Linked DNA regions of Homo sapiens. The protein of the gene in region 1 interacts with the protein of each later gene in a biochemical or structural test. Each region holds a gene or a part of one and is shown in the gene's direction. Other genes may lie near its edges.

Region 1 (7,025 bases):
TTGCCCCTGGAGTTTGGAATGCACATTGAGGATGTCCTCAGTTACATATACATTTTGGCTTATGAGTCTTTCTTTTTTTAATTTTTTTTTTTTTTAAGACAGGGTCTCACTCTGTCACCCAGACTGGAGTGCAGTGGCATGATCATGGCTCACTGCAGCCTTGCCCTCTTGGACTCAAGAGTCATCTTCCTGCCTCAGCCTCCCGAGTAGCTGAGACCACAGACTGCACCACCACACCCAGCTAACTCTTTAATTTTTTGTAAAGATGGGGTCTCGCTATGTTGCCCAGCCTGGTCCCAAACTCTTGGCCTCATGCAATCCTGCCACCTCGGCCTCCCAAAGTGCTGGGTTTACAGGCATGAGCCACTGCGCCTGGCCAGCTTATGGGTTTTAACTACTTACATGGTGCACTCTAGACTGAGGGATATCCCAGGGATGGAGGACCCACCCACCTCCAGGGCATTAACACTTTTAGGGAGGCTAACAACTGCAGCCACACAGAGGCAGGGGTGGAGAGGAGAGAAGGGTAGCTGGGATCAGGGGCAGGCAGCTGCAGCAGCTACTGAGCTGGCTCACTGTGGGCAGCATGGCTGTCTGGCCCAGCCTGCACCTGAGAGCTAGCTGAATGTTTTCTTCACCTCCTTCCAGGGAGAAATTTTTTCCAGTACTATAATTTGTTGAAGCTGAACCCCAGCAACTCAAACAAGGTACCCTGACTCTGGAGATGTGAAAATGTAAAATAATGTGTGGCTTTGATGAAATGTGGTAGAACCAGAGGATTAAGACTTCTGTGGTGATCCTCTCTGCCTGAAATCTAAATTTAGGAGAGCTGAGCAAACAAATGATCAAAGGCAGAACATGTCTTCCCGACCCTCTCGGCTGTGTAGGCGCTCCGGCCTCAGGGGATGCACTGACTTTCCTCCCACTGTCCTGAACACCTGAGAATCCTGAGCGGGGAACAAGTTGCTCAAAGGGCAGAGAAGTGACTCAGAGGTTCAGCAAGAGAAAAGCCCAGTGTATTAAGCATGTCTTTTTATTCTGATGCTTTGCTGTCTGGGCCTTGCAAACGTGAGAGGGACTGCCCCTCCCAGGGGTAGCCAGTTCCTACGGTTAGCAAAGGACTCACCTGGGAGGACAGCTTTCATATGCAAACCAACCAATCCAGAGCCCACACCCTGTGACCACCTCCATCTGGCTCAAACTCAAGGCCACTGTCCCCCTGACCTAATCACCCAGGGCCTGGTACCAGACAATTAGAGATAACTCCTGTGACCCCAGATCCTGCTGAAATTATTCAAACTCCCCAATCCTAAACCTGCTTACCCTGCCTCCCCTTTCTTTCCTTCCCATGGAAAGAATAAAGGCGCTTTCCCACATTTTCCCCTGGTGCCCTCTTCTGGAGCAACCCTGGTGCTTCCCCAGGTGGCCTCCTGGGCTTAGTGTGCCCCCTTCCTCTTGGGCTCTGTGAGTACAACAACTTGTAAAGATAATTTTTTTTTAGAGCAGTTTTATGTTCACAGCCAAATTGAGAGAAAAGTACAAACAGTTCCCAGATACTACTGGCCCCCACACATGCACAGCCTCCCCGATTATCATCATCTCCCGCCACAGCAGTTGTTACAACTGATGAACCTGCATCAGCACGCACAACACCCAAGGTCCACGGTTTAAATTAGGGTTCATTTTTGGTGTTGCGCCTTCTATGGGTTTAGACAAATGCATAGTGACATGTGTCCACCATTATAGTATCATACACAGTATTCATTGCCCTAAAAATCGTCTGTGCCTCACCTAGTCATCCCTTCCTCACCCAACAACTGCTGATCTTTTTACTGTCTCCATAATTTTGCTTTAACTTGCTTTTCAGTGACAATTGCCTCCTGGGATGTTGGCCTTGCCACACCTGAATAATCATCAAACCTGCATTTTATTTGTTTTTATGTGTATGTGATGGGTTTTTTGGGAGGTTGGAGGGGAGGACAGGGTCTCACTCTACGCCAGGGCTGGAGTGCAGAGGTACGATCACTGCTCACCACAGCCTTGACCTCCCGGTCTCAAGTGATCCTCCCACCTCAGCCTCCCAAGTAGCTGGGACTGCAGGTACACATCACCACCCAGGCTAACTTTTTGTAGTTTTTGTAGAGATGGGATTTCACCATGTTGCCCAGGTTTGTCTTGAACTCCTGGGCTCCAGTGATCTGTCTACCTTGGCTTCCCAAAGTGCTGGGATTACAGGTATGAGCCACTGGGCCTGGCCAAACTGCATTTTAAAATAGCCAAGCCTGTTCCTTGTGACTATTGCCTCATCCTTGTATTCAAGACTGCTGTAAGATCATAATCCTAAGCAAGAGTAGAGACATGTAGCACACCATGATCACTTACTGTCTAACCAATGCTGCCCACCCGCTTCCCTTCTGTATGGCTCACCACCCCCACCCCAAACTCCTATAGGAACTCTGCACACACTCCCTCTCCATTATGCAAAACTGGTCTCAGAAAGGAATCAGACAGAATATTTCTACTGAAAGTATAAAGCTTAATATGTTACTTCTTACAAGAATATTTGCATATAACAAGGGAAAAAACCTTAAGTCATGCAGTAAACTTTTATCTTTTTTTTTTTTTTAACAGGAGTCTCCCTATGTTGCCCAAGCTGGTCTTGAACACCTGGGCTCAAGTACTCCTCCTGTCTTGGCCTCCCAAAGTGCTGGGATTACAGACATGAGCCACACTTCTTTTTTTTTTTTTTTTTTTTTTTTTTTCTTGAGACAGAGTCTTGCTCTGTTGCCCAGACTGGAGTACAGTTGCACAATCCCGGCTCCCTGCAACCTTTGCCTCCTGGGTTCAAGTGATCCTCAACCTCCTGAGTATCTGGAACTACAGGCATGTGCCACCACACCCTGCTAATTCTTGTATTTCTAGTAAAGATGGAATTTCACCACGCTGGCCAGGCTAGTCTTGAACTCCTGGCCTTAAGTGATCCGCCTGCCTCGGCCTCCCAAAGTGCTGGGATTTCAGTGTGAGCCACTGTGCCCGGTCTCTTTTTTTTTTTTTTTGAGACCTTGAGACCGGGCCTTGCTCTGTTACCCAAGCTGGAGTGCAGTGGCAGGATCATAGCTCACTGCAGCCTTGAACTTCTGGGCTCAAGCAATCCTCCCACATCAGCCTCCCAAGTACCTAGGACTGCAGATGCTTACCACCATGCCCAGCTAATTTTTCATGAATTTTTAATTATTGAAATTCAGACATCTAAGAAGATGCTGAGGACTGTCTCCATATTCCTGAAATTACGACTCACCTATTCACAAACCAGCCCTTCTAGTGGAATTAAAATATTATTTGATTTTGAATACCCTACTCTAAGGTAGGCACATTGCCCTGCAATTTATTATTTATGAGGTTTTTAATTATGGAATTGTTCAAATATTCACAAAAGTAGAGAGACTACAATGAACTCCAATGTAGCCATCACTCAGGCCCAACTGTTATCAGCACAGTCCAATCATGTTTTATCTTCCCTTCTCTGACCCCCAACCCATCCCCAGTCCTTATCTAAAATCAAATCTCAAACACCATATCTTTGGGAGCCTATTTATTTAGTTAGTTAGTTTTCAGACAGAGTTTCTTTCTTGTTGCCCAAGCTGGAGTACAATAGTGTAGTCTCGGCTCACAGCAATCTCCCCCTCCTTGGTTCAAGCAATTCTCCTGCCTCAGTCTCCCAAGAAGCTGGGATTATAGGCACCTGCCACCACATCCAGCTAATTCTTTTGTGTTTTTAGCAAAGACAGGGTTTCACCATGTTGGCCAGGCTGGTCTCGAACTCCTGACCTCAGGTGATCCGCCTGCCTCGGCCTCCCAAAGTGCTGGGATTACAGGCATGAGCCACCACGCCTGGCCGGCAGCCTATTTAAATGTCATCCTCAACATAGTCAATCCTTGGGCCATTTTTTCTTACAGTAAAATTTTGTCTCTTTCTTTTAATGCAGTTTCTACGTGGAATTTGGACACTTTGGCCTTCCAGGAACTGAAGTCCGAGCTAACTGAAGTTCCTGCTTCCCGAATTTTGAAGGAGAGCCCATCTGGCTATCTCAGGAGTGGAGAGGGAGACACCGGTATGAAGTTAAGTTTCTTCCCTTTTGTGCCCACGTGGTCTTTATTCATGTCTAGTGCTGTGTTCAGAGAATCAGTATAGGGTAAATGCCCACCCAAGGGGGAAATTAACTTCCCTGGGAGCAGAGGGAGGGGAGGAGAAGAGGAACAGAACTCTCTCTCTCTCTCTGTTCCCTTGTCAGAGCAGGTCTGCAGGAGTCAGCCTTTCCCTAACAAAGCCCTCTATCCTATCACCCACACTTGGGAGGCTGGGCTGGGCTGCACAGGGCAAGATGAGAGATGTGTTGATTTCATCCACTTGATTGTCATGTAGAATTAGATATACTTGAGAAGTTACATTTTTCAGTAGCGCCTTCATATCTTTATTTTAGGGACAGGTATACACCAAGCACCATCTCAGCCACAATCTGTTACTAACAGTATGTTTTCTGAACTTTGGCCACTTAGGAAAAGTACAGTTTGGCTCTCTCCAAAGTGTTCCCTGAAAGTCCAACTTTATGACTAATACTGTGATTTCCAGAAACTTTGACTATCCATGTTATTGACAATGATTACTAGCACTGAAGGGCATGCATGCAAGTAGGGGTTATGAAATATTTAAAACACGGTTCTCTAAGATATGAGCAGCAAAGTGTTTCTACCTTCTATGAGGGAACCGAAGGTGCCATTAAAAGTAGAGAAATCTGGACCAGGCATGGTGGCTCATGCCTGTAATCCCAGCACTTTGGGAGGCTGAGGCGGGCGGATCACTTGAGGTCAGGAGTTCAAGACCAGCCTGGCCAACATGGTGAAACACTGTCTCTACTAAAAATACAAAAATTAGCCAGGCATGGTGGCAGTCATCTGTAATCCCAGCTACTTGGGAGGCTGAGGCAGGAAAATTGCTTGAACCCAGGAGGCAGAGGTTGCAGTGAGCCGAGATCACACCACTGCCCTCCAGCCTGGGCGACAGAGTGAGACTCTGTCTCAAAAAAAAAAAAAATACAGACATCTGTTGTGATTCTGGTAACTCTAAATTTTCAACCGTCTCTTCACTACATTTAAAAAATTATTTTCTAAACCAAATTAGCCAGGTGTGGTAGCAGGCACCTGTAGTCCCAGCAACTCAGGAGGCTGAGATGGGAGGGGTGCTTGAGCCTGGAAGGTCGAGGCTGCAGTGCACTGTGATTGCACCACTGCACTCCAGCCTAGGTAACAGTGCAAGACCCTGTCTCAAAAAATAATTATTTTCATGTTTATTATATTAAAATGATGTATGAAATATGTGACTCATCAGGGCTTGAAAAACTTTGTTGTATGGAGATTATTCTTATGAGTTGATTTTTCTCTCTCCTACCTTATAGTAATGAAATAAACCAGGCATGAAAGTCACAATAAGTAATACAATGAACACCCATGGGTCCCTGCCCAGCTTAAGTAGAATATTACAAATGCAGTTGAAGCCCTCTGTGCAACTTTCATCCTTACAACTGATACTGAGTGAATTGTACTTTAAATATTTTATAGCTCCCACTCCCATGCATGCCCCTCAGTGATAGCAATAATTGTCAATAACATGAAACACAGATTGATCATATAGCATTTACCATATATTTACTCTATACCAAGCACTTAACATATATAATTACATTTAAAATTTACAACAGCCCTACTACCCAAAACACTATTAGTATCCCCTTTTACAAATGCGATAACTGAGGCGTAGAGAGCTAAGTAACTTACTGAAAGTCACACAGCCAGCGGGTGGTAGAGCCTAGCTTTAAACCCAGACGATTTGTCTCCAGGGCTGTCACATCTACTGGCTCTGCCAAGCTTCCGCATGATCATTGTCTGTGTTTGGAAAGATTATGGATTAAGTGGTGCTTCGTTTTCTTTTCTGAATTTACCAGGATGTGGAGAACTAGTTTGGGTAGGAGAGCCTCTCACGCTGAGAACAGCAGAAACAATTACTGGCAAGTATGGTGTGTGGATGCGAGACCCCAAGCCCACCTACCCCTACACCCAGGAGACCACGTGGAGAATCGACACAGTTGGCACGGATGTCCGCCAGGTTTTTGAGTATGACCTCATCAGCCAGTTTATGCAGGGCTACCCTTCTAAGGTTCACATACTGCCTAGGCCACTGGAAAGCACGGGTGCTGTGGTGTACTCGGGGAGCCTCTATTTCCAGGGCGCTGAGTCCAGAACTGTCATAAGATATGAGCTGAATACCGAGACAGTGAAGGCTGAGAAGGAAATCCCTGGAGCTGGCTACCACGGACAGTTCCCGTATTCTTGGGGTGGCTACACGGACATTGACTTGGCTGTGGATGAAGCAGGCCTCTGGGTCATTTACAGCACCGATGAGGCCAAAGGTGCCATTGTCCTCTCCAAACTGAACCCAGAGAATCTGGAACTCGAACAAACCTGGGAGACAAACATCCGTAAGCAGTCAGTCGCCAATGCCTTCATCATCTGTGGCACCTTGTACACCGTCAGCAGCTACACCTCAGCAGATGCTACCGTCAACTTTGCTTATGACACAGGCACAGGTATCAGCAAGACCCTGACCATCCCATTCAAGAACCGCTATAAGTACAGCAGCATGATTGACTACAACCCCCTGGAGAAGAAGCTCTTTGCCTGGGACAACTTGAACATGGTCACTTATGACATCAAGCTCTCCAAGATGTGAAAAGCCTCCAAGCTGTACAGGCAATGGCAGAAGGAGATGCTCAGGGCTCCTGGGGGGAGCAGGCTGAAGGGAGAGCCAGCCAGCCAGGGCCCAGGCAGCTTTGACTGCTTTCCAAGTTTTCATTAATCCAGAAGGATGAACATGGTCACCATCTAACTATTCAGGAATTGTAGTCTGAGGGCGTAGACAATTTCATATAATAAATATCCTTTATCTTCTGTCAGCATTTATGGGATGTTTA
Region 2 (7,768 bases), on another chromosome or scaffold:
CACTTGAGCCCAGGAGTTCAAAACTAGCCTGGGCAACATAGCATGAGACCTTATCTCTTAACAACAACAAACGTGAGAGGGTGTGTGAGCATTGTCTGTGAGTGTCAGTGTGTGTGTGTGCCAAACAGTTCCTGCAATCTGGGATTCGTCATGCCCGGCCCAAGTGCAGCCCCCTCTGGGTCCCCAAAGTACAGGGGACATGAAGAGGTGGGACATGACTTCCTGACACTGCCAGTCTCTTATGCAAGGTGCCCCTGCCCAGTATGGCTAGACCGGTCCTGGCATTTCAGGCTGAAGGGCAATTCAGAACTCTCTGCTTCACATTCCACTCTAGGCAGCCAGTACAATCCATCAGCACTGCCTTGGTGATCAAAGCCATTGCCCAGGAACAATACTGGGTGGCATGGCACCCCTCAGGACCCCAACCCCCCTCAGGTCCCTTTTAGTGATACTGGAGATCCCTGGGGAGTGGCTGTGGGGGACTCTTACGTGGGGACTCACACTGTTCTGGCTCCTCTAAGGGTGACCTTCTCCCTAGTGCTGCACGGGTCCTGGGGGACAGCTCAGATTCCAGAATGTGGCTCTGCTCTCAGGTCACTGTGGCCTCTGCTGGCACCTGATGCCGGCAGTAGGACATTTCTGCCACTTCCTACCCTCCAACAGAGCACCTTTGTGTCTCGGTTTCTGGAAAGGCCGGAATGAAGGACACCAGTCTGAATGGCCAGATTCCCTCCCCTGAGGCCTCCCTGATGCCCTCTTGGCTTGGGTGCAGCCCTGGCACTTGCTGACTCTGTGTCCTCAGGCACATCACTTGACATTCATGCTTTCATTCTGCAGGCATTCATTGAGCCCCTATTGTATATGAGACCCAGTTGTAGTCCCTGCGGATAGAGCCAGGGACAAGAGATTGTATTCCGGCTCTCCGGGAGCTGACCAAAGATCATGCAGATAGGCAGAGAGCCCTGCAGAGACCAAGACAGGCAGTGTGATGGGCAGCATGGCTCTAGATCCAGGCCATGTGAGGAGCCTCAGGAAGGGCTCTGCTGGCTCAGGGAGCAGCCTGTGCAAAACCTCTAGGAGGGAGTGGGCTTGGTATTTTTTAAGGAATGCGAGGTCAGTGTGGCTGAGATGGGTAGGGCTGGGGGACCTGAATTATATCCAAAGGGTGGAGGAAGAACAACATGGGAGTTAAGCTGGGGAGGAACACTTCTCTGGCAGCCATGGGGAGGGTGAACAGGAGGCTGAGAGAGGATGGGGTGTGAGGGCAGCAGGGAGCCAGATGTTAGCTGGAAGCCAGACAGGATCCCAGGGCTTTCTTCCAAGTGCCATGTGACTTCTGAGGCGTGAGGGTTCGAATAAAGACCCTGGGACCTGGGGACAAGGGAACCACCCTGGACAAACTGGGTGCTAGCAACACCTCCAGCTAGCCTAGGATTCTGGTTCTGAAGCTGACCTTCAGGAAGACCAAGAGCTCTTGAAATAAGGCTGAACCCTTGGGCCCTGTGAAAGGGAAAACACTCAAACTCTGTTTTTCCTCTGTTCTCACACCACAACAATTAACACAAAAGACTCCTGTGATCAAATGTGTGGGGGTTTCTCCCCATGCACCAAGCAAGCAACCAATTCTGCAGCAACACCAGCTGGGTGTCCTCCAACTCTATTCCATTCTGATGCTAATTACCTGGAGATAGCCTCAGAAACCACAGGTTAAGGATTCAGTCCCCCAAGAGCACCTCCTCCTTCCCATGAGTCGCAAGATTGGGACTGACCAGCTTCAAGTTGGGGTTCCCACCACTCCCTCTTTGGGTTCAATTAATTTGCTAGCGCAGCTCTCAAAACTCAGGAAAGCACATTTATCGGTTAGTTACAAAGGATATTTTAAAGGAGACAAAGAAACAGTTAGGCAAAGAGATACATAGGCGGAGGCCTGGAAAGGTCCCTAGTGAAGGAGCCATTGTCTCCATGGAGCTGGAATGTTCCACCCTCCCAGCACGTGGATGAGTTCTTGTTCACCTTCCTGTGAGCCTCCACGTGTTCCGCTGTCCAGAAGCTCCTGAACCCTGTCCTCTTGAGCCTTTCATGGACATTTCATTGGACAGACATGATTGACAACCTTGTGGAAATGTGATTAGACCAAAAGTATATGATCTAATACTAACTGACTGAGTGGGGAAACCCCGCAAGACCTGTGTGTCCTGACTCTTCTTGACCTCTCTGTGAAGCTCACTGTCTGGTAAAAGGGCAGACTCTTGAAACCTTTTGAAAACTCTGTGCCATCCAACTCTGTGGCCCTTAGGACAGTGGCTCCCTAAGGGAGTGGCCTCAATTTCCCCATCTGCCTAACGGGACTCATCCTTATCACTCTGCACCCACTCTGGTCTTCCCTCCTCATGGGTATGGGACAGAACCCCTTCTCATGGGGGTCTAATGACCTACAATTACACGAGGTAGGTGAGAGAACTTACTTATGGCCAGCTCCAAGACAGACCGGCAGGAGAAGATCCTGCCATGGGGAGAGAAAGGAGCAGGTGAAAGGAAGGTAGGAGAAGGCCTGAGAGACTCTGTTTCTGGGGTCTGCTCCTGAGGTCTAAAGCACCCCAGTGGTATAACAAGGGTTGGGGGCAGTTCTAAGCCAGGGGCCTGTATATGCATATCATAGTATCACAGGCCCCATTCATGTGGAACACCAGGAGGAGAGAGAGCCTCCCTGAGGTCCCTGGAGCTCCAGGTGGTGGGGAGGGGACAATTTTCTTTCCATTACTCCTAGGTCCCCAGAGCCATGGTGAGTTCTGTGCCATTGTCAGAGACCAGAGTGATAAGGATGAGTCCCATTAGGCAGATGGGGAAATGGAGTCCACTCCCTTAGGGAGCCACTGCTCTAAGGGCCACAGAGTTGGAAGGCACAGAGCTTTCAAAGGGTTTCAAGGGTTTGCCCTTTTTCCAGACAGTGAGCAGCTTGAGGGCAGAGGTGGCACCTGCCAGGCATCTGAGGGTGGCACACTGTGGGGCCCCCCTCCAATCCTAGCCCATAGCCCTCACCAGCCAGACACCATAGGGCCAGCCTCTGCGGGCTGGGCCAGCAGGAGCCAGGTGCTATGGGATGCCATACTTAGGGTCTGATTGGGCATCTGGGGGTCAGGCCAGCAGAGGAGCACCTGGAGGCGAGCTGGGGGACTCACTCAAATTCAGTCAATCGCCTCATGAGCCAGAGCTCTCTGAGTATGGGCAATGCAGGGAGGACACAGAGGACACAGGGCGGCCACTGGTGCCTCTTGGATCTCTCAGGGTTTTAGCTCCCTGCCCAGCCATCCGTTTGAGGGTCTTGCCTTTATCTTTCCTCTGTCAAATGGAGCTTCTTCCTCTGTAAAATAGGCATTGTAGGCAGTATGTACCTCACTGGCCAAGTGTGGTGGGCAGATTGAATGAAACAGTGTCTGTGATGAAAGTCCCCTCCCTAATCCCACTCTGGGGAGCTTCATACCTCTGGGAACCATGGGGTCTGATAACAGTAGTGGTGGGTGCCCCTGTCCCTACAGACCTGGAAGCAAACCCAATAATCTCCCTAAAAGTCAGTAGTGTTTCTAGGCCCTAATAATTTGTAAAGGATCTTCCCCTAGTAATTTCTCAGTTATCATCACCTGGCATTGTCATGGCTACCACTATCCTATTCTCATTTTCAATAATCCCCATCCCCTGTGCAGGGCTCTAAAGCCCTGAGTGGCTGGGCATGGTGGCTCATACCTATAATCCGGCACTTTGGGAGGCAGAGGAGGGCAGATGGCTTGAGCCTAGGAGTTCAAGACCTGCCTGGGTAAAGTGGCAAAACCCCATCTCTACAAAACATACAAAAATTAGCCGGGCGTGGTAGTGTGTACCTATGGTCCCAGCTACTTTTGAGGCTGAGGCAGAAGGATCACTTGAGCCCAGGAGGCTGAGGCTTCAGGCAGCTGTAATCACTCCACTGCATTCCAGCCTGGGTGACCATGGGTGACCCCGTCTCAAAGAAAAAACAAGTTTTTTAATTATTAGAAAAAAGAAATAGGGCCTGGTGCGGTGGCTCACCCCTGTAACCCCAGCACTTTGGGAGGCCGAGGCGGATCACCTGAGGTCGGGAGTTCAAGATCAGCCTGACCAACATGGAGAAACCCCGTCTCTACTAAAAATACAAAATTAGCTAGGTGTGGTGGCGCATGCTTGTAATCCCAGCTACTAGGGAGGCTGAGGCAGGAGAATTGCTTGAACTCAGGAGGCGGAGGTTGTGGTGAGCCAAGATCATGCCATTGCACTCCAGCCTGGGCAACAACAGCGAAACTCAGTCTCAAAATTAAGTCCTGCAGTCTCTTGGGCCTGGGGTTGGTCGGCTGGGGCCAAGCCTGGCACCCACCAGCCTTGTGACCTTGATTGCCCTTGCCAAGCCTCAGTTTGTCCATCTCTAAAATGGGATTCGCCGTGACAAGTCCACGGAGGACTGTGTGGAGGAGGGAGACTGAGAGGCTTTCGAGTCAGGAGCCCAGACTCGAATCCTGAGTTGTTCGTTATGTTATTATTATTGGTGTGTGTGGTTAACTGCTAACCTCGCAGTCCGCAGCGGCCCAGCGCCTAGGGGAGGGGAGCGGGCAGGAGGCGGCCCCAGGCGGGGCGGGGCTGAAGGCCTGGGGTGATCCGAGCCCCGCCTCCTCCCCCTGCCCCGCCTCTCCCATCCCCGCCCCGCCCCGCCCGGCGACTTAACGCGCCCCCGCCCCGCGCCCGGCCTCGGCAGCCGCCTGTCGCCGCGGGAGCAGCCGCTATCTCTGTGTGTCCGCGTGTGCGCCCGGTCCCCGCCTGCCGCACCATGGAGAGCTACCACAAGCCTGACCAGCAGAAGCTGCAGGCCTTGAAGGACACGGCCAACCGCCTACGTATCAGCTCCATCCAGGCCACCACTGCGGCGGGCTCTGGGTGAGTGCGCGGCGCCGGCCGGGGACGCGGCTCGGGCGGGGCGGGGGGCGTCTGCGGCGGCCAGAGTCGCCGCGGGCTCTGGGTCGCGCTGCGAGATGCCTAGACGAGGAAGGTGGCCCGGGCGCCGTCGGAGGGCGGAGACGCGCGCCTCGCAGGGCCCCGGGCTGCAGGCGGCTTCCGCTGCGCCGCACACTCGCCCTACGCCCGGGCTCGGCCGCGTGGGCCTCTGGTCCTCCGTGCGCCTCAGGCCGGCTCTTCCCCACGCGGATCGCCGGCCGCGCAGCTGCATGGTGGCGCGGGGGATGGGCTCGCGACTCGCCAAGTACCCTCTAGGGTGATGCCGGGAAGGCCACCATTACTGCTGTTCTACAGAACGCGGCCCTCTTAACCCTCTCCACCACCTGGCTGTGTGGGCGCCGCCGGGAGTGTTCCCCCTTCCAGATGGGGAAACGGAGGCTCCGAGTTAGTCAGCTACCCAAAGTTACACACAGGGAGATCTGATTTGAGCCCCAGCAGTCCGACTCTAGAGACCCTGTTTTTAATTCCTCTTGCAGGAGACTCGGGGGCCCGGCCTTCTCCCCACCTCAGACTACGCTCCCCTACCCCTGTCTCCTGCCACCCCTGGGTTGGGTCCGAGTTTGGAGCAGGGGGCTGCTGAGACGCCAGGCAGCGGCGGGGCTGATTGGGGGAAGAGGGGAGGAGGGCGGTGGCACGTGGGTGCAGAACCCTGGGATCCATTGTGAAAAGGAGGTCTAAGATTTGACCTGGGGCGGGAGGAGGCGGAGGGCAAGGAGACTGAGAAGGCTGAGCGCCGGAAGGACGGAGTTCCAGGGCCCTAGCGCCGGGAGTGACGTCCTGGGGCAGGGCCAGCCACCAGGTGCTGTATCTCCCAGGCAGGAGCTGGCGTGCCTAGGCCCCAAGATCCTTCCCTGGCCAGCCCTTTTGGCCCAGAAGGTGGACACCCAAGGAGCCTCCTCTGTAGCGGAGACAGGGATAATTAATGAGGGCCACCGTGCATGCAGCTGGAGGTGTCCAGTGGGGTGGGTGAGGGGGTCAGTCAGTGAATTACTTCAGAGCCTGCTTCCCGCTCTGTAAAGCGGGGACAGTAATGGCACTTAACCACGCTGGGTGGTTTCAAGGACTCCAGTGCTCTACTTGGAGGCTGCTTTGAGGCCACAGTGCCAGCAGTGCTCCGGGCTCATGACAGGGTTGTGAGGGCTGCGTGATGGATGATTTCTCGGGACCTTCCCAAACAAGCTCTGTTTCAGACAGACAAGATTCTGGCTTCTGGCCAATTTCATTCAGGATATATTATTAAGAAGTAAATCTGTTCACCTTTCTGGGTGGATACGCATTCACCCTTTGTGCCTCTAAGACACCCTGTTCTCAGAAGGGATTAGATGTCTTTCAAAGCCCTTCCCCCACCCACTGCCTTGCACACTTTGGACCTGTTAGCTCTCCTGGGTTTGTGTCAGTCTTACCACTTATGTGGGGTATCCCCTGCCTGGGCAGGGACCTGGCTTACTCTCAGCTCCCCTTTCACCAGCCTGGCACACGGTAGCTCTGCAGGCCTTGTATTGCTTATTTGGTACTGTTGGACCTGCTACCTTTGGCCGTTTCAGGGGGTCTGAGGTCTAGCTGGAGAGAGGCAGCAATTACCCAACTAAGTAGTATTGCACATCTGAGCATCTTTCAGGGCTAGATAAAACATGCAGATGTTTACAGGGTTCCTGAGCTGCCAAGTAGGTATCTGGTATGACACAGCATCATCGTTTGTTGCATCCTGAGAATAACCCTGTGAGATAGATTGTGTTGTATTCACATTTTATAGACGGGAACACTGAGGCTAGTGTGTTAAGTTACTTGCCCAGGCTGGGAATTGGTGGCCATTCCGTACTGTCTGGTTGGGGCTCATGCTGTCAGGAATGCTTCTTGGCAGGGCATGGTGGTTCATGCCTGTAATCACAGCACTTTGGGAGGCCAAGGTGGGAGGATTGCTTGAGCCCAGGAGTTCCAGACCAACCTGGGCAACACAGTGAGACCCCATAGCTTAAAAAAAAAATTTTTTTTTTGAGATGGAGTCTTGCTCTATCGCCCAGGCTAGAGTGCAGCAGCACAATCTTGGCTCACTGCAACCTCTGCCTCCCAGGTTCAACTGATTCTCCTGCCCTAGCCTCCTGAGTAGCTGGGACTACAGGCATCCGCCACCGCACCGGCTAATTTTTGTATTTTTAGTAGAGATGGGGTTTCACCATCTTGGCCAGGCTGGTCTCTTGACCTCAGGTGATCCACCCACCTCGGCCTCCCGAAGTGCTGGGATTACGAGTGTGAACCACTGCCCCCGGCCAAACATTTTTTTTAATTGGCTAGGTGTGGTGATGTGTACCTGTAGTCCCAGCTACATGGGAGGCTGAGGCAGAGGATCACTTGAGCCCAGGAAGTTGAGGCTGTAGTGAGCCTTGAACATGCCACACACTGCAGCATGGGTGACAGAGTGAGACTGTGTCTCAAAAGAAAGAAAGAGAGAGAGAGAGAAAGAAAGAAAGGCCAAGAAAAGAAAAATAGTTGGGCATGGTGTTACATGTATGCCAGCACTTTGGGAGGCCAAGGCAGAAGGTTCGCTTGAGGCCAGGAGTTCAAGACCAGCCTGGGTAACATTAGCAAGACCCTGTCTCCAAAAATAAATAATGTTTCGGCCAGGCGCAGTGACTCATCCCTTTAATCCCAGCACTTTGGGAGGTGTAGGCGAGTGGATCACCTGAAGGTCAGGAGATCGAGACCAGCTTGGCCAACATGGTGAAACCCTGTCCCTACTAAAAATACAAAAAAT
Region 3 (7,025 bases), on another chromosome or scaffold:
CATACTTGCAATGATTTCTCTGGTAGTAACAATGGAGATCAAGAAGGAAATATTCTTTGAATTGCCTTTTTTATCCAAAGAAATGTAAAAGTAAATCGGACACTACTATTTTCCCCTGGTGGGGGGCCTCAACACGAGGTATTTATTACTATGAGACTTCACTGCTGCATCAGTTAGTAGCTTCTTAATGGCCAAGTCAAAGGAAACCAAAGAAAGTGTTCTATGCCAGCTTGCCATTACACAGAGTGAGAAGAAATGCTGCTTTGCTGTCAATTCTGTTTTATTGGCCCACTTGGACAAGAGGGAAAGCCCCCAACATTTCTTCTTTCTTATCTCTTCTAAAGGCAAGAATAGGGCTTTTGACTTGCTCCAGGGGATATTTTTTCCTCTCTAACTGAAATTCAAGTGAAAGAGTCTTTTTTTTGTTTTTTTGTCTTTGTTTGGTGTTTTTGTAAACCTCTCCCCTATGTTCCTAGCATTGAAATGTAAGCTGCTTTTTCTGGCTGCATGTAGCAGGAGCAGGCTGTCGTCATAGCAATGAAAGGGTGTAGAGAGACTCCTGCTTCATGACCTGCTCTGGGAAATAACTCTTAGTCTGCTTTAAAATCCTTCTTTAGAAATGAAGTCTCCAGTCCTGGCTTGTTTCCTTCCTATTACACAACCAACTTATGTACACCCATTGCAGTAGCTAAATGTTTCCTTTAAAGATTTAGTGAATAGGTATTTTAAAAATCAACAAGAGAGCTGCTAAAACAGTGGCTAGTTTACTGTGGCATACAGGGGAAAAACAACTGGGAAGGCAAAGAAAGAGAAATAGAAATGGCCTCACATGATACACATACTGCAGCAAACCCTGCAATAAATCCATTTTTCAAGTTCCCACTGCTTCCTCCCATCTTCACGATGTGCTATGGTGTAGTGGTTATAGAGGGGAATTCTGGGGCAGACTGCCTGGACTTGAATCCTGGCACTCATACCTTCTAGTTGTTTTAATCTAATCCATTCTGTGCCTCTGTCTTCTCATCTGTGAAATAGATATAATAACAGTCATAAAATTGTCATGGGAATTGAATGAGATTGAGCATGTAAGGCATTTATTACAGTATCTAACCCATGGTAAAGGTTGGCTGCTAAGCTCAGGAGCCTCAGTTTCCCCCACTTGTGAAATGTGGATAACAGCTAATTCATAAGATCATTGTATTTTTTTTTTTTTTGAGACAGAGTCTTGCTCTATTGCCCAGGCTAGAGTGCAGTGACATGACCTCAGCTCACTGCAACCTCCACCACCTGAGTTCAAGTGATTCTTGTGCCTCAGCCTCCTGAGTAGCTGGGACTACAGGCATGTACTACCATGCCTGGCTGATTTTTGTTGTTTTAGTAGAGATGGGGTTTTGTCATGTTGGCCAGGCTGGTCTCAAACTCCAGGCCTCAAGTGATCTGCTTGCCTCAGGCTCCCAAGGTGCTGGGATTACAGGTGTGAGCCACCATGCCAAGATGATCATTGTATGATTAACTAAAATAATGAATGTACATGCTCAATAAGTAGTAGTTATTACAATTCTTTTTCATGGTTTTGTTATTGAAACAGCAAGGTTCCAGTCTAGGTCCTGCTGCTCACTTCGTAGAAAGCCAATCACTGAGACAACAAGTATTGCCAATGAAGAAGGCTTTAATCAGGTGCTGCAGCTGAGGAGATGGGAGCACAGTCTCAAATCCATCTCACTAACTGACTTAAACTAGGGGTTTACATAGCAAGGGAAAAATGTAACAATGTGTAAGAAAATAAGAACTAGGTAGGGGTAAGGAAACAATCATGGTGAATAAGCGGTCAGGCATCTGCTGCAGTGATCTGGTGAGTTTCCATTCTTTTATACTTTTTTAGAAGCCTGAAGGTCCTGTCCTGAGGAAGGAACTTAGATAAAACAAATATAAGTTTCACACTTTAAGACCAGGAGGGTCAACTTCTATGTTTTTCAAAAAGATCTGTCTGTGGGACTATTGGGTAAGTTTCAGTTTGATCTAACTCTGACATGAATGGCCTTTTTGAACTTAGAATTCCCAGTGAGTCAAATATAATGAATAGAGGCCTCAGAATTATCATTGCATAAATGTGAACCATTTGATTTCTACAGGGGGAAAAAAAAGAATTGTGACTTTTTACATTTATAAAGACTCATCTCATCTTGATTAACACCAGGGTAAAAAGTATTAAAACATCTTATCTTTCATTAACTTTTTATTACGTTTCTGTTTCAGTTCCTCCAGTGTTTTCTAGGTCATGCAATTATGAAAATAAGTTAGCATTTTTATCTTACATCTCAAACAACTAATGTATTCAGTGTTCTATCCCATGCAAAATTCCAGAAATGCAGCAAGGAGCAAAACTAGAGAGGGGCTGAGCTCTTGTGGTGCTTACTATGTAGTTATGAAAATGGTCATTAATCAAACCATCACAATAATGAAAACTGCATAGGACCAAACATAAGGTGCCCCCAAATACAATGCCATCTTCATCTTTCTAGTGAGAACATCCTCAACCAAAGTGTTTGGCCAAACAGCATGTACAAATGGGTAATATATTGTAATGTACACTTGGGATATTTAATCTATGGTTCACATACATATTTAATATGTTACTTTAATTTAAATATTTTATACTTATTAACATGACTTTTTCCTTTCTCACATTTCATGAAACAATTTTGTTAAAACTCTTCATACGCATCTTTAACACCAATGTGTATGTTCACTGGATCCACGCTGTAATTATCTAATACAGAGCACATCATCAATCCTTCTGCAAGTTGCTAAACATCTGCTGATGCTGCAAATTTAATCCCCAGGCATTAGTCCTCACTCGTGGTCATGTTCTCCACACTTTCATTACTGACTAGATTGTTTTTCCAGTGCTTTTTAAAGGGCGTATTTAAAAACCACTTGAAACTGTAAGTGTGGCTTTCTAAAACTATGTGATTCCAACTTGCAATAATGAAGTCATACCTCAGGAATAATGACTAAACCTGCTTTAAATATCTTTATCTATTTTTTCATCCATTTTGTCAAGGTGACCTTCCTAAGAATAAAAATAAGCATTGCTTGAGATTTTTTTTTTTTTTGAGACAGAGTCTCATTCTGTCACCCAGGCTGGAGTGCAGTGGTGTGACCTTGGGTCCCTGCAACCTCTACCTCCTGGGCTGGAGCAATTCTTCTGCCTCAGCCTCCTGAGTGGCTAGGATTACAGGTGTGCACCACCACGCCTGGCTAATTTTTTGTACTTTTAGTAGAGACAGGGTTTTGCCATGTTGGCTAGGCTGGTCTTGAACTCCTGACCTCAGGTGATCACCCACCTCGGCCTCCCAGAGTGCTGGGATTACAGGCATGAGCCACTGTGCCCAGCTCTTGAGATGATTTCTAATTGTTTTTTTGAATAGTACTTTGCTGCTCAAAATGAAGAAACTTTGGAAGCACTTGAATATAAGTCAAATCCCTCTTTTTTACGGCAGGATTTGGTGGCGTGAGAAAAAACACATTTTATTTGAACACATGCCATATATAATGATACACTGAAATAAGTGTTATGAAGGCAAAACACCTTTGTTCCAAGAGAGTATATAAGGATCCTGACCTCCACTCAGGATCAATAATGGCTTTCCTTGATCTGAAGTCTGAATAGAGGTTAACTCTGTGTGTGTGCGTGTGTGTGTGTGTGTGTGTGTGTGTGTGTGTGTGTGTGTGTTTGGTGGTGGTGGCTGGGAGGAGCGGGTGCTGGAGAGAGAATTCTGACAGCGTGAACACTTGTGCAAAGACCCTGGAGCAAGAGGGATCGTGGCCTATTTGAGGCACTGAGAGGCAGCCAGCTCCCGAGAGCAAGGGCAGAGCAGTGGAAGATGTAAATCTCCATAATACTCCCTTCCCTGAGCACTAAATGTATGTGCCCTTTGCTTGATTCAGGTTTAATGTATACTTTTAACGTCTGGATGGATTTCTGGTTAGTCTCAAAGCCCCAACAGGCATGACCATGTCTATCCCTAGCTCAGACTCTTATGGTGGTAGGTTCAATTAGGAAGGATGATGGGCAGTTGAAGGTCAGATGCCCAGAAAAGTCTTAAGTCATTGACTCTGAGTATATCATATACACTCACAGGGCTGGGACACCTTGATGTCAGATGGTGACTCAGCAGAGAACTCAAAATAGAAGAACGTCTTTTTCACCCTTCAGATGACTTTAGGGCCAAACCATAGAGCTCTCCCCAGAGACTCATTAATACTTTAAAAGCTCTAAAGCATCAGTGTTAACACTGGATCAGGTAACAGCACGTATATGTTAGCCAAAATATGACTAAGAGATTTGCTCTCTGATAACAAGGCCTTTGACTATTATGTAAAAACAAGGTGAACAGGAACGTTCTGAGTCTGTTTATAAAGTACCTATAATAATTGTTTTGTTTACTACATTTCCCAGAAAGGAAATTTTTCCATAGTTGTAATAATTGCTAAAAATAGCAGTCTACAGGCTTCCTCTGATATAAACAAATTCAACAGAAGATACCTGGCCTTATTTGGATGCATGGATGTACATACTCCAGGAAATGATAGGCCAAGAGTAATAAGAAAAAGAAAGTAACAAGACAAACCTCTCCTTTTTCTAGTACACATGGTATGTCTTTCTTAGTTCATTAAACTTTAGACAAAGTGATAAACAGATCAAGTTGTCATCATCTGCCTTGAAACCCAAAAATATTGAAACAAGTTCCCTAGGCCCAGAAGGGAAGGAAGAGGACTTGTAAATTTTGCTGAGGCTGCCACAGAAGGAGCTAACCACTGGAGGGTTCAGACTGGAGGGTTCAGAAACCAGGGGAATGCTAGGCAACACAAGGAAAATTCAATTAGAAAGACTTGAAGCAATAACTACCAGCACTAAAATTTCCAGGGAGTCACTGATGTGGCCAATATGAAAGAGGAATCCTGTTCCTCCTTTCAGAGGTATGGATGACTGCGTTTACAGTCTGGTTCAGTGTTCAGACAGCTTATTAATGCTTAAGAGAAAAGGAAAGAGAAGGAAGATAGAAAGAAGAAGTACAGCAAGGCAAGAAGTGCCCAGGGGAGCAGGTGTGCTAAGTTGATTTAAGTGGCATGGCAATATACAGAACTTCAAAAATAAAATTTATCTTTTAAAATTTAAATGTAAATTAATGTTCTAAAAAACTATAGGAACTGAAAATAAATCAAATACAAATATCTACTTCGACCTAATCTTACTGTAATTTAAGTTTCTAGGAAATATCATAGAAACTGAAGTGGAACCAATTACAGAAAAAGAATGCAAAATAAACCATAGTACCGAAAATAAAAACATATTCTGGTCGTTTGTGTAGGTTCCCTAATAAATCTAGACGGAGAATGATGTTTTTGTGTTTTAGTGTATGCCAAACTTTAGACACCCTCCTCTTTTCTAGGAGATACAAATTTCAGGAGCGATATTTAGCTATTACACACATAGCTTTTCATCAGAGATGGGGGTAGCTGACACACACATGGCCCATTCTGCCCATACCTTTCAGGTCAATCTCTGATGGCTTGGCTGGGCTGTTTCCAGCTAGCAGAAAGGATATTCAGGCCCCTTTTCCTTGCTTTTCCAGGGACAGAGCTTGTAGAGTGCTGAGAAATCCAATTACAACTTCCTTTCATGGTGAAATCCAATTACAACCTCTCCCATGGTGAAAGCCAATCTTTTTGATACAAAAGGAAACTAAACAAAAGGGCTTCAGGCAGGGGATATGCTTGTGCTCTGCCTTCTCACTTTGACAATTATGCAGGAAGGTTGCAATGACCTTGGCTTGCCTTGCTTAGGAACAAAAGTCATAATCTTCTACCCCCTACTCCCACAAAAAGGAAAAACGTTTTCATATCTGATTCCAGGAGTTTGGGGAGTTTCCTCAAGGATCCATTAGTCAGGCAAAGCAAATTTTGAGCCAACACTTGCTCCCTCCCACACACTTTTTTTTCCGGCAAGATGACTTTTCTTATTGAACTTGGAATGCCATGTTAAATGATAAATAAATTAGTGAATTATTTAGGCCAATATCCTCCCATAATCTGTTCCCAACAACTTTTTTTTTTTTTTTTTTTTGAGACAGTGTCTGGCTCTGTCACCCAGGCTAGAGTACAGTGTGCAGTGGTGCAATCTCGGCTCACTGCAACCTCCGCCTACCCAGCTCAAGTGATTCTCCTGCCTCAGCCTCCTGAGTAGCTGGGACTACAGGCACCTGTCACCACGCCTGGCTAGTTTTTGTATTTTTAGTAGAGATGAGGTTTCACCATGTTGGCTGGGCTGGTCTTGAACTTCTGGCCTCAAGTGATCCACCCACCTCGGCCTCCCAAAGTGCTGGGATTACAGGTGTGAGCCACCGTGCCTGGCCTGTTTCTGCTACCTTTGTGATATCCAATGCTGTGTGTCACCCTTTCAGCCAACCTGTTTGCTTGAGGTTAGTGAGACTGTAGTACTGCTTGGAGAGGGGTCATCCTAAATTCCTAAAACCTGGTTGAGATAAACGGAAACAGTTCTCAAAACAGTAATTTATGAAAATAGATATTTTATGAGTACTTGACACAAGTCTATAATTGCTGAGATATTTAAAAATAAAATTACTAACCACATTCTATTCAAATCTCTGTCACTTCTGTATAATCACTGTACTCCACTGAATGTGTGTAAAATATGTATTTGCAGCTTATAGGGAAAAAAATTTGCAAATTTTCAGAAGAATCATGCAGTCAACTAATAGGTTCTTAGTTGAAGATTAGTGGAGTGGGGAGTGGTAAATGGTTATCTTTTTCAAAACTTAGGACAAACTTTACACTAGGTTCAAATAAAAGTGCTATGGCTACAGAGTTAATGAACCCACCATTCAAAGTGGCCCTAAATAGCTCTGAAAGCAAAGCATTTTTACATTATTTGATTCAACTTGAGTTATCTAATTGCCTATATAATATGATAGGGACCCAGGCCGGACACAATGGCTCAT
Region 4 (7,025 bases), on another chromosome or scaffold:
AGTCTGAATAGACACATTATTTGCTTCTTTAACAATGCTTTATAAAATGTAGAAATTTGAAAGGCTAGAAATGTTTACAAAGTCATATATCTCATGGATCATCACACATTCTTGGAAATGTATACTGCCAAGACCTTAAATCAAGAACTTCCAACCTTCATGATTTAAAATGGTGGGCATTGAGACCTCCTGACTGCTTGCTCATAAACTTATTTTGCCCCACATTTTCTTATTCTTGAAGATATCAATGAGTGCAAGATGATACCCAGCCTCTGCACCCACGGCAAGTGCAGAAACACCATTGGCAGCTTTAAGTGCAGGTGTGACAGCGGCTTTGCTCTTGATTCTGAAGAAAGGAACTGCACAGGTCAGTTAATGAGCCTTAAGGGCCAGGAGAGGGGACGTCCTTTAAAACTCTTTATCTTTAACATATTGTCGCAAGAATTAAGGCTGTCCTGAGACTCATTTGCTGCCACTTGCTGTTTTTGTGCAGACATTGACGAATGCCGCATATCTCCTGACCTCTGTGGCAGAGGCCAGTGTGTGAACACCCCTGGGGACTTTGAATGCAAGTGTGACGAAGGCTATGAAAGTGGATTCATGATGATGAAGAACTGCATGGGTAAGTTTGGGATCATTTGATCAACACAGAAAGAGAAGGATTCCATGAAGCTTTGATGGCTCATAGCCTATGTTCCAGGTTCTTCCTGCTGCCCCAGTGCAACCAGTGAAGTTAGGAATCAGTCTGCAACAGAGGGAGACTGAGGTAGAAAGAATGAGGGAATTCATGCTGTGGGTTTGTGGGTGATGGCGGAGACCAGTTGTGGGCCCTTGAGAAGTGATTTTAACACCTGAAATGGATACCCAGGCGGAAGAGAGGACAATTGAGACAGAAGCTGTAGTAGAGGTCCCTTTACAAGATGTCTGTCCAACACTTCTAGAAAAGGTGATTGGTAAACTTGTTGCTTTAGGTCTGGTTTCCTAGAAACAAAGTTTGAAATGGAGATTCTTGCAAAAGTGGTATTTCTTACTGTGAGCAAATTCTCTCAGAAGGTACTTGTCAGGAAGTAAGGAGAGCAGGGTAGTGCAGGAGAAGAAAATAAACCAAGAGTTTGGCTGCATTTTGGTTTTAGTCTGATCCTGCAGGGAGATCTGGTGTATGAATAGCACCAGAGAGTTGTCCCACCTTGAGACAAGGAGGTCAAGATGGACACCCAGCAATGGGTGGGGGAGGAGTGCTTGGTCTGGTGGAGGAGATGAGGCCCCCACCTTTAACATGGTCATTTCCATTTTGCAGATATTGATGAGTGTCAGAGAGATCCTCTCCTATGCCGAGGTGGTGTTTGCCATAACACAGAGGGAAGTTACCGCTGTGAATGCCCGCCTGGCCATCAGCTGTCCCCCAACATCTCCGCGTGTATCGGTAAGGAGAAAGACTTTCACACCATTTACTTGTGGTCAGTTGTTTGAATGACATCATTGCCAAAGTTGGAAGCTTATGTTTGGGTGTTTGTTCTTCTTATTTTCCCGACAGACATCAATGAATGTGAGCTGAGTGCACACCTGTGCCCCAATGGCCGTTGCGTGAACCTCATAGGGAAGTATCAGTGTGCCTGCAACCCTGGCTACCATTCAACTCCCGATAGGCTATTTTGTGTTGGTAAGTTCTTTTTTATTTTATTTTATTTTATTTTATTTTACTTTATTTTATGTTATGTTATGTTATGTTATTTTATTTTATTTTATTTCATCTCTCCCTAAAACACTCTATGTACTCTGAGTTTTGTTTTCATCGCTACTTTTACTTATCTTTCTTGTTTCCCTGCAATATTCTTTTTATAGTGGCTCACGATCTTTGGATCTCATCTCCATTATCTGTTTAAAGAGCCAGTTAAGTGAAGGACATAGGATGTTTTAGCTCTAATAAGCATAATTTGACCCATGCCGTTTGGATAGGGAACAGTAGCAGCATGTGCTTTGTCTACACACATGCATACCAATGCACATTAACAAATGGTAACTAACCACCTGAAATAAACTAAACACGGTGAGTGCTGTGGAAAAGAGCAGAAAGCTGAGTTGAAATCACTGCCCTTATGTGGTTTAGATCAGCTAAAAGATTTCAAAAAAATAACTATTGGAAAGAAGACCATGGAATGTTCATATCTTACACTGCAATTGAGGCTATGCCTGGCTCTCCTTAAAGATGGGTTTTTGTGGGACAAGAATTTTGCTTTGTGGTCAGCCCTCTGTAGGTTTAGTCGTGCTGTGAAGAGTGGCACAGACAGTCCTGTGGCTTTATTGTGCCCCGAGTCAAAGTGAAACTTTGTAGAAACTGCCAGTTTTTGCCTGGTTTGGGGTGTACACCATGTGGAACTGCCAAGTCTCACATGGTTTCCACCCAAAACCATAAATCAGCCCAAAGTTTTCTGAAACATGGCCCAGGACAACTCAGAACTTCAACTCAGGTTATTGAAAAAGATTGGAACCTCAGCCAATCAAACTGAATTTCAAGTTTATAAGTGAATCTGTGGCCAAGAGAATTTCATCCACGTGCCTATTATCATAACTGAGATGTGTTCTCCTAGCACCCAATACTTCTCCTGCATTGCAAATGGCACATCATGCATGGTGCAATTAATTGTTCATCTGTCTCCTGGCCACAGTGTAATCATTTTGAAGTCAAAGATTGTGTCTGTCCCATTCACTATTAGAGTCTCATCTCTAGCATATAGTAGGTATGTCATTAACATTTGTTGAAGGAATCAGTGACTCAGTTGCCCTAGAATGCTTTTTCCCCTTTATTTGACGTATGCCTGGAAATGTTAAAAATGTGCCATGCTCATAAACACAGAGGGAGGTGTGTTAGCCCATTTTTGTGATACTGTAATAGAATACCTGAAACTGGGTGATTTATAATGAATAGAAATTATTAGTTCACAGTTCTGGAGGGTGGGAAATCCAATATCAAGAAGCCAGGATTTTGCATGGTCCTTCTTCCTACGTTATCCCATTGAAGAAAGCACGAGGGTGAAAGAGAGCAAGAGGGGGCTGAACTTGATCTTTTATAACAGCACCGATCCCACCATGAGGGTAGAGCCCTCATAGGATGATTACCTCTTTTAAAGGCCCTGCCTCTTAAATAGTGTTACAATGGCAGTTAAATTTCAACACGAGTATTGGAGGGGACAGACATCCAAACCATATCAGAAGGTGATATTATTTTCATTTCTTTTAGACATTGATGAATGCAGCATAATGAATGGTGGTTGTGAAACCTTCTGCACAAACTCTGAAGGCAGCTATGAATGTAGCTGTCAGCCGGGATTTGCACTAATGCCTGACCAGAGATCATGCACCGGTGAGTAGGTTCTAGCCTCATGTTGAATCTCTCAGTAGGTTCCTAAGTAAAGTAGTTTAGGGCCCAGGCTTTGGAGTCAAGCAGGCTTGAGTCCAAACCCTTGTTTGTCATATATTTTAACTGTATCCTTAATCAAGATACCTATTATTAGAATCCTCATCTATAAAATGAAGTTCAAATTGCCTGCATAAAATAGTATTTACAGAGCTTACCATAGTACCTGGCATATAATAAATGGAATATAAAATACATTTTCCTTCATTGACCAGACTTTTGAAGAGTTTGATGTTTTGGCCTAATTCAGTGCAACTCCAGGTTTATTCCTTGAACCATTGGCAACAGCATCACCTGAGAACTTGTTAAAAAAATGTAAAATCTCAGGCCCCATTCCAGATCTACCGTATCAGAAACTACTGAGGTAGATCCCAGGAATTTGTTTTCACAATCTCTCCAAATGATTTGGATGCATGCTAAAGTTTGAGAACCAGTGGTCTAATTTACACTTCCTTTTGTATCACCCTGGCTGCGAGAGCTGTGAGCCAGGTAGAGGTGAGAAACAAAGTGGGTAATAACATAGGCTTTGATTTTGGCTTGGCTTAAGAAGAGAATTTGGATTTAGGAACCAAAATTATTTTACTGACCTAGAAAAATGTCCCTTAAAAAATCTAGATATAAATTTGGCTACAAAAATTGTTGAAAATAAGGCCAGGCACGGTGGCTTACACTTGTAATCCCAGCACTGTGGGAGGCTGAGGCAGGCAGATCACCTGAGTTCAGGAGTTCAAGACCAGCCTGACCAACATGGTGAAACCCCATTTCTACTAAAAATACAAAATTAGTTGGGTGTGGTGGCACATGCCTGTAATCCCAGCTACTTGGGAGGCTGAGGCAGGAGAATCGCTTGAACCTGGGAGGCGGTGGTTGCAGTGAGCCAAGATCGCGCCATTGCACTCCAGCCTGGTGACAGAGTGAGACTCTGTCTCAAAAAAAAAAAAAAATTGTTGAAAGTAAATATTATTACTAAGAGCATCTAAGTAGGTATGGTTATTTCAAGTAATTCTTACCTTAAAATATTGCTAAAACAGTTGATAGAATTCAGGCATTTATAATTTGACAATAGGGAAAATAAGATTTATAATAATTTTTGAATGATAAATTAAATGAAAGAAAGATTTTAAATAAATAATAGACTTTTAAGCAGGTGTGGACGTTGCCCTTGAGCAGTATATTATAAATATTGAAAAATATTTTTTCCTTTTTTACCAAGGATAACCCAATGGGCTAGTTTATGCAAAGCTTCATTTGGATTTGAGAGTTAATAGTCTTATGCTAGTAGGCTAAGTTTATTTGACTGCGGTCAGTTAATGTTTTCTCACTGAACAGTGGAACCAATATCAACAACCTGTGGTTGTTGGTTTTATTCTTTGCAGACATCGATGAGTGTGAAGATAATCCCAATATCTGTGATGGTGGTCAGTGCACAAATATCCCTGGAGAGTACAGGTGCTTGTGTTATGATGGATTCATGGCATCTGAAGACATGAAGACTTGTGTAGGTAAGCAAAGAAGACAGAATTTTTCATCTTGTCTTGTTAGTCATAAGCACTGTTAAATTACATAAAGTTAGTTTGGGTCAGTGATAGAAAGATTCCATAGGAAAAGTAAGGATATTTAGAGGCACAATACTCATATTTTAACCAGCATTCCAAAGAGAGCTTTCTTGTGGCTATTAAATGGTACTCTTGTCAGATATGTTATGAGGACTGACTGGCCATTCGTCAGCTCCAGATGGACATTTCTTTTATGCCTATCCATTACTTTTGTCCACTTAACCCTCCTTCTGCTTTGACTATCATGTAGGCTTTTTAAATCCTTGACTAAAGGCAAACAAAATTTACTTCTGACAAGAATGCAGTAAACTTTAGAACTGATCTATTTGTTTTGTATAGTTTCTATTGTTATGCCTTCAAATTTGATAAACTTTTCTTCTACGATCTCTAATCTGCCTTTCCTCACATACAGTGTATTTTTCATCTCAGATGTTGTAGTTTTCACCTCTAAAAGTTCGACTTGGGTATTTTTTCATATATTCTGTGTCTCTGCATAAGTTCAATCATTCCTCTAGCTGTTTGAACACATGGAATACAGTTATAACAACTTTTAGTGTCTTTGTCTCCTAATTCTGTCATCTGCATTGGTTCTAGGTCATTTGAATAAATTGACTTTCTTCCTTATTTTAGGTCATATTTTCCTGCTTCATTGAGTGACTGGTAATTTTTGATTGGATACCAGATAGTGTAAATTGTGCCTTACTGAGTGCTAGATATTTTTGTATTCCTAGAAATATTTTTGAACTTTGTTCTGAAGTGTAAATTACTTGGAAACACATGGATCCCTTTCAAAGTCTTGCTTTTAAGCTTTTAAGCTACACTTAGTCTAGGGGTAATTTTGCTCTGTTAGTGAGGTAAGACCCTTCTGGATATTCTACCCAATTCCCTGTGAATTATGAGGCTTTCCAGTCAGGCTGGTGGGAACAGGCACAATCCCAGACCCCCTGTGAACTTTGAGGATTGTTCCCTCTCATTTTCTTGGGTAGTGCTTTCCCCAGCCTTGAGTAGTTTGTTTCCTTATATGAATGTGCTGGTCACTACTCATCTGAATACTTGCAGAAGACTCTTAGCAAATCTCTGGCATTGCTTTCTTCTGTGTAGCTCTCTCCTGTCCTTTACTCTGCCCTATGAACCCTAACTACCTCAGCCTTCCAGGATGCCCAGATTCATCTCCTCAACTCAAGGACAGTGCCTGGCTCCATCTGGTACCTCCTCCTTATGCCATGAAGTTAAAACTCTCCTATTCAGTAATCTCGGGCAATTGTAGGATTCACCTAGTTTTTCTTTCTCTCAGGGATCACTGTCTTTTGTTGCCTAATGTCCAATGTCTAGAAAACCACTTTTTAAGGTATCTATTGTCTATTTTTTTTGGTTGTTTCATCTGAGAATATAATTTTAATTCCTGTTATTCTATCTTGGCCAGAAGCAAGAGTCTGGTATTGATTATATTTACATTTTTATCACATTTATCTTCTGAAAGCCTTTACTGAAAATGTTTGAAGTCCTAGAATTAAAATGAATGTCATAAAAAATGAATAATTTTTAATTTGGAAAAGAAGTGAAGTCTTAAACTACTTACACTAAGACAACCAGTTCATCTATCCTTTCTTTCAAAATATGAAAACTAAATTGTTATCATCATGCAGACTGAATTAAACTTTTCATCCTGCAATAGAGTATGCTGTTCTAAAAAGTTTTCTAGACTGTCACATAAACGAGCTCTAAACTCAGCATGGAGCCCATCTGTTTATTTGATTAACTGGCCTGCTGCTTATGGGCCAGATGAAAGCCAGTCTGAATAATGAGCTTGCAATGTAAAGAATGAAGAGCAAATGTAAATTGGCCTCTAAAATTTAACATTGTTTTTCTGAGGGAAAGCATTTTACCTTTTCTAATGTATTTGTCATAGTTATTATGTCTCGAGGGGAAAGTACTCAATGATATCAAATAGCTACATATATTAATAGTATATATGTTTTACAGATGTCAATGAGTGTGACCTGAATCCAAATATCTGCCTAAGTGGGACCTGTGAAAACACGAAAGGCTCATTT

The links.
Region 2: the proteins of MYOC (region 1) and TKT interact in far-western blotting, tested with the Homo sapiens proteins (one study listed by BioGRID).
Region 3: the proteins of MYOC (region 1) and SPARCL1 form a complex in vitro, tested with the Homo sapiens proteins (one study listed by IntAct).
Region 4: the proteins of MYOC (region 1) and FBN1 form a complex in vitro, tested with the Homo sapiens proteins (one study listed by BioGRID).

The regions. Positions count from the first base shown.
Region 1 is NC_000001.11:171,635,684-171,642,708, reverse strand, and holds part of MYOC (myocilin precursor), read left to right. Parts: intron 1-3,986; coding exon 3,987-4,112; intron 4,113-5,999; coding exon 6,000-6,784; 3' UTR 6,785-7,025. UniProt on the Homo sapiens protein: Secreted glycoprotein regulating the activation of different signaling pathways in adjacent cells to control different processes including cell adhesion, cell-matrix adhesion, cytoskeleton organization and cell migration.
Region 2 is NC_000003.12:53,253,006-53,260,773, reverse strand, and holds the start of TKT (transketolase), read left to right. Parts: upstream 1-4,751; 5' UTR 4,752-4,831; coding exon 4,832-4,938; intron 4,939-7,768. UniProt on the Homo sapiens protein: Catalyzes the transfer of a two-carbon ketol group from a ketose donor to an aldose acceptor, via a covalent intermediate with the cofactor thiamine pyrophosphate.
Region 3 is NC_000004.12:87,519,352-87,526,376, reverse strand, and holds part of SPARCL1 (SPARC-like protein 1 isoform 1 precursor), read left to right. Parts: exon of another isoform or gene 1-1,024; intron 1,025-5,554; exon of another isoform or gene 5,555-6,156; intron 6,157-7,025.
Region 4 is NC_000015.10:48,481,710-48,488,734, reverse strand, and holds part of FBN1 (fibrillin-1 isoform a preproprotein), read left to right. Parts: intron 1-241; coding exon 242-367; intron 368-493; coding exon 494-622; intron 623-1,297; coding exon 1,298-1,423; intron 1,424-1,534; coding exon 1,535-1,660; intron 1,661-3,238; coding exon 3,239-3,361; intron 3,362-4,791; coding exon 4,792-4,917; intron 4,918-6,954; coding exon 6,955-7,025.